2 separate regions of the Homo sapiens genome follow, and region 2 is linked to region 1. The links come from fine-mapping of genetic effects on gene expression. Tissue or cell type: whole blood. Region 1 holds a variant in brackets; the other region holds the start of a gene. All regions are shown on one strand. Distances are between the middles of the regions.

Region 1 (5,985 bases):
GTTGTGGTGCTAGCCAAAAGAGGAACACGTGTCACCTTTTGAACTGCAGCCTCTCCCAAAAGTTCATGACAAATGTCCTTAGCAGCAGGCAGAATCAACTCTTCACCAATAGTAAAGGCTTCTTAGCTTTAGCAATGCAGTTAGCCACTAAGAATGATGCTCTCAGTGCAGACACATTTGATGAAGTGGTGGCCTTCAATAATTGCTTCTGCTCTTCATGTTCACATTCTTTTCTTTTGAAAACTCCAAAAGCTTGTCTTTTGATGCAGGGTGCTTGGCCTCCATGTGGTGAAGCAGTTTTGAAGGTTTCATGGCTTCATTGGATAGCCAGTCGCCACATATTATACAAAGCAGGCTTGGAGAATGTGAATCACGTGTTGCAATGAACCCATAATTTAAGTAGGACTCTTGGTATTTTCTTTTAAGTGCAGCTTTCTTTTTGTGGCAGTCTGAGTCTTCTGCTCTGTCATCATTGGTTCTTTCCGGCTTTTCAAAGAAGCTCTCCAGTGAGATTTTTTTTTTTTTTTTTTTTTTTTTTTACTCATTTTGGCTAGAGTTAGCTTGTGGGCTCACCAAAACTGTGACCAAGGCGAGTGTGCAGTGTGGGAAAGAGGCGCAGATGGAAGCAGTAAATAAAATAATGAGCGGGCCACGTATGGACTAAAATAAGTGTCAGATGCTGACCTAAAGCCTGCCACCAGATGCAGCTTAATTGTCACTTGCTACTCACTGATAGGGTTTTGATATGAGTCTGCAAGCAACTGATTTATTATGGTCTCTGTGCAATCAAACCTCTCTGCTAATGTTAATCTGTATTTGCAGCCGCTCCCCAGTGCTAGCATCGTCACCTCAATTCTACCCCAGATCATCAGGCATTAGGTTCTCATAAGGAGTGCACAACCTAGATCCCTGCCATATGCAGTTCACAATAGGGTTCAGGCTTCTATGAGAATCTAATGCTGCCGTTGATCTGACAGGAGGTGGAGCTCAGGGGGTAATGCAAGTGATGGGGAGCCGCTGTAAATACAGACAAGGCTTTGGTGGCTGCCCGCCGCTCACCTCCTGCTGTGGGGCCCAGTTTCTAACAGGCCACAGACTGGTACCAGTCCATGGCCTGCGAGTTGGGGACCTCTGCACTAAAGGATTGGTCATTGTTTCTAGACCTGAAAACAGTAAACAGAGCTAGGGAATTCACTTAGTTTATTTGTTTTCAGATCGGCTAAATAAAAAATTCATACTGAGAGGCCAGGCACAGTGGCTTATGCCTGTAATCCCAGTACTTTGGAAGGCCGAGGTGGGAGGATTGATTAAGCCCAGGAGTTGAAAACCAGCTTGGTCAATATAGTGAGACCCTATCTGTTAAAAAAAAAATTTAGGCCAGACACGGTGGCTCACACCTGTAATCCCAGCACTTTGGGAGGCCAATGTGGGCAGATCATGAGGTCAGGAGTTCGAGACCAGCCTGACCGACATGGTGAAACCCTGTCTCTACTAAAAATTCAAAAAATTAGCCGGGCATGGTGGCGTGCACCTATAATCCCAGCTACTCAGGAGGCTGAGGCAGGAGAATCGCTTGAACTCAGGAGGTGGAAGTTGCAGTGAGCCAAGATCGCGGCACAGCACTCCAGCCTGGGCGACAGAGTGAGACTCCATCTCAAAAAAAAAAAAAAAAAAAAAATCATACTGAAACCTCTAATACAAACACAGGATTATGCATTTTTTACTTAACCCCTTTCGTCTTTCACTTGTATTTTTCTCCCACACCAAAAGTCCTGGTTCTCAGCAATACCAACAAACTCACTTGCTTTATTACATACTGTATATCCAACAGTCTCAGAATAATACCAAAGCTACTACTAACAATGTGAGACTGAAAACAGGCAGCCCTTTTTAAAAATCAGAGTAAAAAATTCTGAAAATGAAAGTGGAAAGGAACCCCACAGGAAGGGTCTGTGCTGACCCCATGTGACAGTGTGGCCGTTTGCATTACTGCTGGAATTTTGAAGACTACTACATATTCCGTCAGTGTCAGGATTTTGTTCTTCAGTGTGGTACTTTTTTTTTTTTTTTTTTAAGATGGAGTCTCACTCTGTCGCCTGGGTTGGAGTGCAGTGGTGTGATCTTGGCTCACTGCAACCTCCAGCTCCCGGGTTCAAGCGATTCTCCTGCCTCAGCCTCCTGAGTAGCTGGGATTACAGGCATGCGCCACCACACCTGGCTTATTTTTGTATTTTTAGTAGAGACGGGGTTTCACTATGTTGGTCAGGCTGTTCTTGAACTCCTGACCTCGTGATCCGCCCACCTCAGCCTCCCAAAGTGTTGGGATTACAGGCGTGAGCCACCGCACCCGGTAGTGTGGTACACTCTTAAAATCATAGTTCCTGCTGTCTGGGAGTTTACATATGTCTACAGAGTGGAAGAAGCATGAGATTATAGCAGTGTAGGCTACCAGAATGATTGTTGGGTTGGTAACCCAAGTATGCTGGTCACCCCAAAGCTTCAGTTTCCTTGTCTTCTACATGAGGATAAAGAAAGGAAGGAGGAATTTACAAGAGGGAATCTTGGGCAAGTTGAATCATCTTTCTGAATTCTTGAATTACCTTCCAGGAATAAATAAGGAATAGATAAAATTCCTTATCTATTAAGAGGGGGTACAGGGATTGGACTATATTGTAGTGACAGCAGCTTTCTTTCTGTTCTCCAAACGTACCTGCTTCGGGGACCTTATACTTGGGGTTGGTTCTCTGTGCATTGAACACTCTTGCTCCAGCTCTTCCAATGTCTCGTTCCTTGTCATCATTCATGTCTCAGCTTTAATATCACCTCCCTAGGGAGGGCCTCCTGACCACATCATTGAAAATATCCATCCTCCATTACTTTATCATATCAACCTATTTCATTTTTGTGGAACTATTACTTATCTAATTGGCTTGTTTATATCTAGATCCCCTCTCTCCAGAATGTAAACTCAATAAAAGTAAGGTTCTTGACTTTCTTGTTCATTGATATGTCCCTAGGAACTAAAACAGAGCCTGAC[A/G]CATAATAGCTGCTGAATAATAATGCCTTTTGAATAATGAATGCCTGATAAATGACTGGATGAGCTATATAATCTCCAAAGTCTCTTTCAGCTTTAAACCCAAGATTATATACTCATTATAGTGAGTAGAGGATCACTAGCATGACTATACCATGCTACAGATGTGGAAACTGAGGCAGTGAGTGACTTGCCAAAGGCTTTGCAAACAGGAAAGTGGTGTGGTCCAACAGAACCGTATGGGAAGTCAAAAGCAGGAGACTCGGGTTTGGATCCTCACACCATCCCTCTCTGTCGACCTTCCTTGCAAGGGCTGTGTGAACTGGACAAGCCACTTCACCCCTCCAAGGACTCAGTTGTTCCACTGAAAAGAGAAGATGTACTAATAACTCTGCCCCAGGGTCACTGTGAGATCATGTAGTCTGAACCGCACTAAGCACTTTGCAGAGTGTTTTGCTCTTCCTTTAGCCCCAGCTTGTTTTCCAGGGTGGAGAGTGGAGGTGAGGAAGGAAGCCCAGGACCAGGGCTGTGGAGGAGGGGAGACTCAGCGGGTTGCCACCATTTGTTTACTCACCTGAGTCTCTCTGCCTCTAGCCTAGCTGTGCTCCCCGCTAAGGTAAAGAGGTGGGGTAGCCTTGCTCGGCCAATGAGCTGCCGTCGCTCTCTTAAAGGCACCCAGCGTCTGGAAGGAAAACTAGCCTGGCAACCTGGAGAGCTCCCGGGCCAGAGCCAGGAGGCAGCTGTGCGATCTGGATGTACCTAAACCCTCCAGGGCCACATAGTGACCCCAGGCCCTGGTCACTCCATGCTTTGGAGGGTGCTTTTGTCAAAGAGGCCTCCTTTCCCTCACCCAGAGCTGGATTTCCAAGAGGCTCCCATACCTAGCTGCCCTGGCAGACTCCCAGGGAGGAAAAACAGCGTGGCCTTGGCAGCTGCCCCGAGGAAGGAGCCCACAGGTGACAGGGAGAAGCCATTGCCATTCCCTGTCCTGGCCCCCTTCAGCAACCCTGGTGAGTCCTAGCACTCTGCGTTTCTTGAACCTCAGGACAGCAGGGTGTGGTAGGAAGATCCTTCTCCCTAGGGGCAGAAACCTTGGGTGCTGGTTCCAGCCCTGCTGTGTGACCCTGAGCGAGTCACTCCAGCTCTCTGAACCTCACATTCCCCATCTGGGAAAATGAGGAGCTCAAATTCCACTCTCAGCTTTCCTCTTCTATTGTTTTCCCTTGTCACACCCCTTGTTCTGAAAGATTTAAGTCTGTCAGCTGCACCTGTTACATAATAATTTGTTAATTGGTTTTCCTCTTCTATGTGAATTGTGGCCCTGTAATAGCCAATCAGTGTTTTTTGGTTAGCAGACACAAACCACTAAATTGATGCAGGTTTAGCCAAAAGCAGTGTAGTATTTTATTCTGTCTGTGAGATCTTATCTAGAGTCGATATTTGATTTTCATTTGACCTTTTGAAATATGAGAAATAGAGCATTTGTGAGTAATTTCCAGGGAATGGGGTCCCCAGGTGGGGAACTCCTAGATCTAGTTTGCATGGGGTTTATAAGGACACCAGCAAAATCCTGCCTTCACGCCCAAGCTGAGCTTTGGTCTCTGCAGTGCTGCCTCACACACAGGGTTCATTCTTGAAAGTGAAAGCTTTGGACTTAAAAATTTCCTATGTGGAGAGACTGCTCCCAGGAGTCCCCACAGTGAGTTTACCCCACCTCTAGCTGGCTGAGGCTAGGGAAGCCTGGTTGGGGGAGCTGAGGTCTCCCTCAGCCCTCTGTTAGGGTGTGGCCAGGAGAGTGATGGGAACAGGTAGGTATGAACACAGGGCCTGGAGGCCAGGAATATATGGTAGATACCGCTTGTGCTGAAAATCAGGAGCTAGGCCTGCAGTTCTGGTTCTGCACTGACTAGCTCTGTGACCTCAGGCAAATTGTTTACCTCTTTGAACTCAGTTTTCCCAGCTGCAAAATGGGGATTGTAATCTGGGCAATGCTTGCCTACCAGGATTGTTCTTATGACCAAACAAAGTCTGTTCCATGGAAGCTTAGATTCCACAGATTTTAAGATAAATTCAGATTTAAAAATACATTTTGGGATTGATGAGGTAAGGTAATGAATGTTTTGTAAAATGCGGCCTCTGTAGTAATTATTTTCTCCAATCACTGTGTGATAATAATTAATGTGATAAAAGAATTACTGATTATGATGGAATCGTGGCTGCTTGTTTAAATCCTTTTACTTTAAAAAAATACCATTTACTGGGACTTTTTGAAATGTACAATCATATAAACAAAAAGAAAGGGGAAATAGCTCACTGAGTCATGGTATTTTCTAACGACTCGTGGGATGGGAACCCAGTCCTGGAATGTGGCCCCATTGGAAGCAGCAGGATAATACAATGGTTAGAACAGGCATGTTGGAGTAGAGGATCTTGGGCTCAAATATATACTGTAAGACCTACTGATGACCCTGGGTGTAAGTCACTTTTCTTTTCAAAGCCCCTTCTGTGCAGTCACTTGAGCTTCAGCCACCCTGTTCTCTCCTTTCCTGCAGCTCCCTGCTGAGTAAATAAATCTCAGAGAATGTTGGTTTCAAGGGTTGTGGCAGCACCCTCTCTCGGGGTAGAGCCTATGGTAGAAGGAGTGGAGTGAAAGTGAAAGCCAAAACAGTTTCTAGGAATAGGGAACTCAGGCAGGTATTTGAGTAACAATGTGTGTGAGCGTTGTGTGCGTATACGCATGTGTGCATGTGCACAGGAGCTAATGAAATTAAAAATGAAGCCGGGTGCGGTGGCTCACGCCTATAATCCTAGCACTTTGGGAGGCTGAGGCAGGCAAATCATGAGGTCAGGAGTTTGAGACCAGCTTGGCCAACATGGTGAAACTCCGTCTCTACTAAAAATACAAAAAAATTAGCTGGGCGGAGTGGTGGGCACCTGTAATCCCAGCTACT
Region 2 (5,985 bases), 43 kb after region 1:
GGGGTTTCAGGCATGCACTGGGATAAGGGAGGATGACTGTATTTAGAAATATATGCATATAAAATACCATAGTTGGTTAGGAATCAAAAAAACCTGAATTCAAATCCCAATTCCATCATTTTTTTATTAAAACTTAAAAAAAATAGAGACAGGGTCTCACTGTGTTGTCCAGGCTGATCTCTAACTCCTAGGTTCAAGTGATCCTCCTGCTTTGGCCTTTCAAAGTGTTAGGATTACAGGTGTGAGTCACTATGCCCAGCCCCAGTTTCATTATTTTAATGTAGAAAAAACTACTGGATTTAGGATAAAGAGATTCAGGTATGAGACCTAGCTCTGTCTGGCTCTGCTGTGTGACTTTGGATAAGGAACTTTACTTTTCTTTTTCTTCCTTTTTCTTTTCTTTTCTTTTTTTGAGATGGAGTTTTGCTCTGTCACCTAGGATGGAGTGCAGTGGGGTGATCTCGGCTTACTGCAACCTCCGCCACCTGGGTTCAAGCAATTTTCATGCCTCAGCCTCCTGAGTAGCTTGGATTACAGGTGTGCGCCACCATGCCCAGCTAATTTTTGTATTTTTAGTACAGACAGTGTTTCGCCATGTTGGCCAGGCTGGTCTTGAACTCATGACCTCAGGTGATCTGCCTGCCTCAGCCTCCCAAAGTGCCGGGATTACAGGTTTGAGCCACTGTGCCCGGCCTTGGACTTCACTTTTCTGAACTTTGGTTTCTTCATCTGCAAAACAAGGAGAATGAGTAATCATTATGATTCCTTTTTCCAGTTCTAACAGCTTCTAAGCCTAAGATGTTGTCTCGGCCGGGCATGGTGGCTAACACTTGTAATCCCAGCACTTTGGGAAGCTGAGGTGGGCAGATCACCTGAGGTCAGGAGTTTGAGACTAGCCTGGCCATTATGGTGAAACCCCATCACTACTAAAAATACAAAAATTAGCTGGGCATGGTGGCGGGCGCCTGTAATTCCAGCTACTCAGGAGGCTGAGGCAGAAGAATTGCTTGAACCCGGGAGGCGGAGGTTGCAGTGAGCTGAGATCCCACCACTGCACTCCAGCCTGGGCGACAGAGTAAGAGTCAAAAAAAAAAAGATGTTGTTTCACACAGGTCTCTTACTTTCTCTGGCCCTAGTTTGTCTCTCTCTGGGGCAGAGCAGGCCCAGGGTAGGCAGATCTCAGTACCCCTCCACCCTCTACACAGCAGGGCCTGGCCATGCTTGTTCAACCCTGTTTCTGACTGCTGAGTAGCATGAACGAGTTTCTTGTCCACACAGTGCCCTCGTACCCTCACGAGTTCTCAGGGGTCAGGGGAGGGTACTTCTCTACCTCCAATTACAAAAAGAACAACTAACAATAATAATTATGTCCCCTATTAACAAAGTTTAGAGAGGGTCTAGAGTGAATAATCTCTTCAGGGATTACTTATCAATAAATTTGTAAAAATAAAGCTGTGCATGGTGGCACGTGCCAGTGGTCCTAGCTACTTCGAAGGCTGAGGTAGGAGGATGGCTTGAGCCCAGGAGTTTGAAGCTGCAGTGAGCCATGATCACAATGACTGCACTCCAGCCTGGGTGACAGACCTCATCTCTTCAAATAAATAAATAGTGCATTTCAGTGGCAATGTGCAATAATTTACCTTCTGATTAAGAGTACATGTAATGAACTTAGTAGATTCCTGGTTTAATTCATTGAGTAACATTACCTTCCTTGGTAGCTCTTTTGACGTACTGGCTTGTCTATAAAATTTACACAGCACCTTGACTAACATTGTCTCACTTGACCTTCACATGAGCTCAGAGGGTGGAAGCAAGTCAGGCATTATTTACCCCCATTTTTCCACCAGGAGAGGGGTCCAGGGAAGTGCGGCTAGCTGGCCAAGGCTTGGAGGCTGAATAACCCAAGAGTTGGAAGTAGACATGGCATTACCTGGCTATCCCTACCAGTACTTCTCCCCCATACTGGTTACAACAATCCTACAGCTCAGCTTTGCTGGCTGGGGCAGTTCCAAGAGGCTTTTCATTCAGTCTTCTCCTAGATCCAGCAGGTCGTGTGCTCTAATTCTTGTTTTGGAGATGGCCAACATTCCAGGCTGTTATGTTATGTGAGCACGTGGGATCACAGCCAGTCAGAAGCCAGGACTTCTCCAAGTGAAGTCATAAGCACCAAAGGGATCTTGCTAGACACGCAGATTTCTGGGTCCAGTCCCAGACCGAGCCTGATTCCTAATACTTTGGCATCTGCGTTCAAAGAAGTCTTCCCTTATCACCCAAACAAAAGTAGCCCATCTAGTCTAACTGATTACCACAGTTTAACTATTGTCTTCATAGATACTAGACAATAATTTATTACTTGTTTATTGTCTCTTTCCCCACCTTAGAATAAATTCCATGAGGATAGGGACTTTGTTAGCCTAGTTTATACCAAACCCGTTTCCTAGAACCCTGCAAGGCCCCCACAGTACGAGGTCAGTAAGTATTGAATCGAATGTACACTGAAGTTTGAAACTGCTGTCATACACTGCTCCTTCATTTTACAATAGAGAAACTGAGGCCCACGAAGCTGGAAGTCACTGCTGCAGAGATGGTAAGGGGGCAGGGCCAGGATAAAATCTCAGATCTCAGAAGTCCCAATCCAGGGACGGTTCAACTCCGCCCAAAGCAATTCTTTAGAAAAAAAACGACATCCACTTGAAAGAAAAGACATTTCCTGCCCATAAATACAAGGTTTCGCGGCGGGGAGAAGGGCCTGGCCTGGGTGAGGGCTTTAGTAATTCCGTTCCCACTTCCTAGGCGCCGGCTGCCCGCAAGGGCTAAAGACTCGCTTTCCAGGCCCGGAGTTGAACCCATCTCCGGGTAGTGTCGAGGCCAGGCCCAGCGGCGGCGAGGCGCGGAGCACAACCCACTGAGGTGCGGACGGCTCACCCAACCAAGGTCACCCGGGCGGGGACCGAAGGGGCCAGGCCCGCCGGGCACAGGGGAGGGGGCGGCGTTGGCGCGTCCTCGGGGCGGATGAGGGTCCTCCCTTCGGCCTCCTAGAAGTCAGGAATGACACTAATGGCTCCTTCCCCTGAATCTGACACCCAGCCTAAAGAGCACGAGCAGGCCCGGCAGGCCGCGTGGCCGGGTCCCATGTGCTCCACCTGAGGCCGCTCTCACGCGCTGGCCCTTTAAGATACCTCCCCTCCTCGCCCAGCCTTCTCTCCTATCCCCGTCAGCGCCCCCACCGACAACTCCCGAATTGCATCAGGCACGTGCTCGCCCCCGTCCGGTCTGAGCGTCCCTACCCCCAGCCCGGGAGGTGCTCTGAGGAATCGGAGACGAGGGGCGGGGCGAGGGGCAGGACCGCGTAGCCGTGCGCGCGCCGTCCCGCCGCCTCCTGCCCGCCCGTCGCCCAGGGCCCGGCCAGCGGCGCGCCCCCGCTGCGCCGTCCCCTCCCCTCGCCCGCCGCGTCGTGAGGCGCGCGCCCGCCCGCCGCCTGCCGCGGATCGCGTGGTCTGCTTGGCTCGCCGCGCCTCTCCCCCGTCCGTCCATATTGCTGCAGCCCCCGAGCCGGGAAGCCCGGGCCGCCCCGGGGGCGGGGGGGAGGGAGGGACGGGACTAGAAGCCTGCCGGGCTCGGGGTGGGGGCGTCTTGCGAGGAACGGGCGGGGGGGGACGCACGCCTAGGAGGCCTGGACTGCAGAGTGGGGGGCCTTCCTCCCCCCCCGCCCCGCTAGTGGGCCTCGGATTTACGGCGGCTGCATCTAACTGGGAGGGGGCCGCACCTCGCGTGAACCCCGACCCTTCTCTGCAGGGACTGGGGCCCAGCGCCCCGGAGGAAGGCGTCGCGGGCGCTCTGCTAGCCAAGTTCGAGGCGGGGGAGGCAGCCTCGGGCGCGCCCGGCTTCTCCGGGGGGGCGGGCGCGCAGATGGCCACTCAGGTGGAGCCGCTGCTGCCTGGGGGCGCCACGCTCTTGCAGGCCGAAGAGCACGGGGGGCTGGTGAGGAAGAAGCCGCCGCCGGCGCCCGAGGGCAAGGGCGAGCCCGGGCCAAACGACGTCCGCGGGGGGGAGCCGGACGGCAGCGCTCGGAGACCCCGGCCGCCCTGCGCCAAGCCGCACAAGGAGGGCACCGGGCAGCAGGAGCGCGAGAGCCCGCGGCCGCTGCAGCTGCCCGGCGCCGAAGGCCCGGCCATCAGCGACGGGGAGGAGGGCGGCGGCGAGCCAGGCGCTGGCGGAGGAGCTGCCGGAGCCGCGGGCGCGGGGCGCCGGGACTTCGTGGAAGCCCCCCCGCCCAAGGTGAACCCGTGGACTAAGAACGCATTGCCGCCGGTCCTGACCACCGTGAACGGACAGTCCCCCCCAGGTGGGTCTCCCTCCTTGCCCTCCTGGGTCCGGGGGCCTCTTCCGGGGACATGGGAGTCCCCTCCCCCAGCACCTCCAGGGCCCCGGGGTCTGCTACCGGTCATGGTGACTCGGGACTTTTTAAAATTGCCTCCTGGTTGATCCTGGTCGCCGCGCCCTCCCCCCCACCGTACACTCAGGGACCTGCCCCTGCCCGAGGGCCCGGCCTCCGGGAGGCTACGGCCACCGCCTGGGCCGCAGCGGTTAGTGGGCAACGGTGTGGTTCGGGCCTACCTCGTCGGCAGAGGGTGGGCGCTGGTTTCAGTGAAACGATCCCCACCGCATGCTGGTGTAAGAGACGGTTTCTGGTTTGAACCTTCCTCTGGAAGCCCCTCTTCCCACCCCGCCCGGCGCTCCCCGTTTTGGTAGCGTTGCGAGCGTCCCCATGTTGTAAATGTTTAATGAGCATATGTCACGGGCAACCCAGTGCCCGGCGCGGAGTACATGCTGGCCGCACGGATGCGGGGATTAAAAGTTAACAAGTTTTGTTCTCGGGGAGATGAAATTGGGCTTTAGAATCGCCATTTGGAGACGGGTTGAGGGGTCAGTTGTGGGGAGAAGAAACCCATCGTGTCATCGAATTCGGTGGTTTCCCTCCCCGATCCCGGGCACCTTCCGCCTTAAGAAGGAGCCCGATGGCGAGTGTGCTGGGGGAGCCAGTTAGGAGGTTGGCGGAAAATGTGAGGCGGGTGAGGGGCCTGCGGCGACTTGAGGGGCGTGTGGCGGCGGGGGAGGGAGTGGCCGGCCTGGGCGGGCGGGTGACAGTTGGGCGCCATGCGCCGCGCCGGCGGCCCGCGGGCCGCTCGGCCTCGGCGTTCGGTGCGGGCCGCGGCGCTGGGGGTGGCAGGAGGGTGCGGGCCCGCGGCGCGGCCCGAGTGTGCGTGTGCGCGGCGCGGGTGTGTGCGCGTCCCCCCTTCCCAGCATTCCTCTGCAGCCGGGACAACGTGGTGCCTCCCCGCGCGGGGAGCGGCATGTGACTGCCGACCGGCGCTCCGCGAGTCCTCCCTCTCCCTCCTCCGCGTTTTGGTCCTTTTGGACCGTGCCCCTTTCCGGGGGGAGGTAAGGGGTGCAGGAAATCCCAGCAGAGCCGTGTCAGCGTGGGGGGAGAGGCGGTGCAGAATATGGAGTCTGCTCTTGCATTGCCTTTGCCGAGAATAGATCGTCGGCTTGGGTGGGGGGGGCGCGCCCACTCTCCTCTCTCGGCCGGCGTATAGGGCGGGTCTCCATTCTTTGGTTTTGGGTCCGTTTGTGGTGGGTCGGTTTTAAAATTGTCTTGCAGTTGGAATGATGGCCTCTGGTCGTAGCCCTGGTGCTTTTAAAAAACTCACCTGCCGTAGCTGGTTGAGGCTAACTGGTTTAAACCATCAAAAATAAAGGGGGAGCTTAATGTCTTCACCGTCAAAGGAGTAGAAGCACTGCTAGTCCTAGGGAAGCCAGAATAGCCAGTCCTGAAAACAGCATGTTGCAATTTTTATTTCTTTTCAGGTTGCTTCATTTGGAGGAGGGGACATTTGGGGTTTACTAACAGTCCTTCATACTGTGTTCTCTTCCTTCCCCCCTGCTCCCCTTCCCCCCTGCTCCCCTTCCCCCCTGCTCCCCTTC

What was found. PIP is the estimated chance that this variant, and not a neighbour inherited with it, causes the effect.
Region 2: LARP1 starts here. The variant in region 1 is fine-mapped to the expression of LARP1 in whole blood (INTERVAL, PIP 0.99).

Annotation. Positions count from the first base shown.
Region 1 is chr5:154,709,087-154,715,071 of GRCh38, forward strand. It overlaps a transcript of LARP1 not described here. Among named protein-coding and RNA genes, the nearest start is that of MIR1303, 26 kb to the left of the region's middle. RefSeq lists an enhancer at 3,302-3,848. The variant A/G (reference allele first, on the strand shown) is at 3,038.
Region 2 is chr5:154,751,849-154,757,833 of GRCh38, forward strand. It overlaps LARP1 (La ribonucleoprotein 1, translational regulator), which reads left to right and starts at 3,529. Exons shown (of 19, transcript NM_033551.3): 1 at 3,529-4,345. The coding sequence starts at 3,910. It overlaps LOC112267936 (a long non-coding RNA gene), which reads right to left and starts at 3,172. Exons shown (of 2, transcript XR_002956231.2): 1 at 1,931-3,172; 2 at 1-729. RefSeq lists silencers at 2,907-3,056, 3,307-3,646, 3,687-4,096, 4,137-4,216, 4,497-4,606 and an enhancer at 5,527-5,586.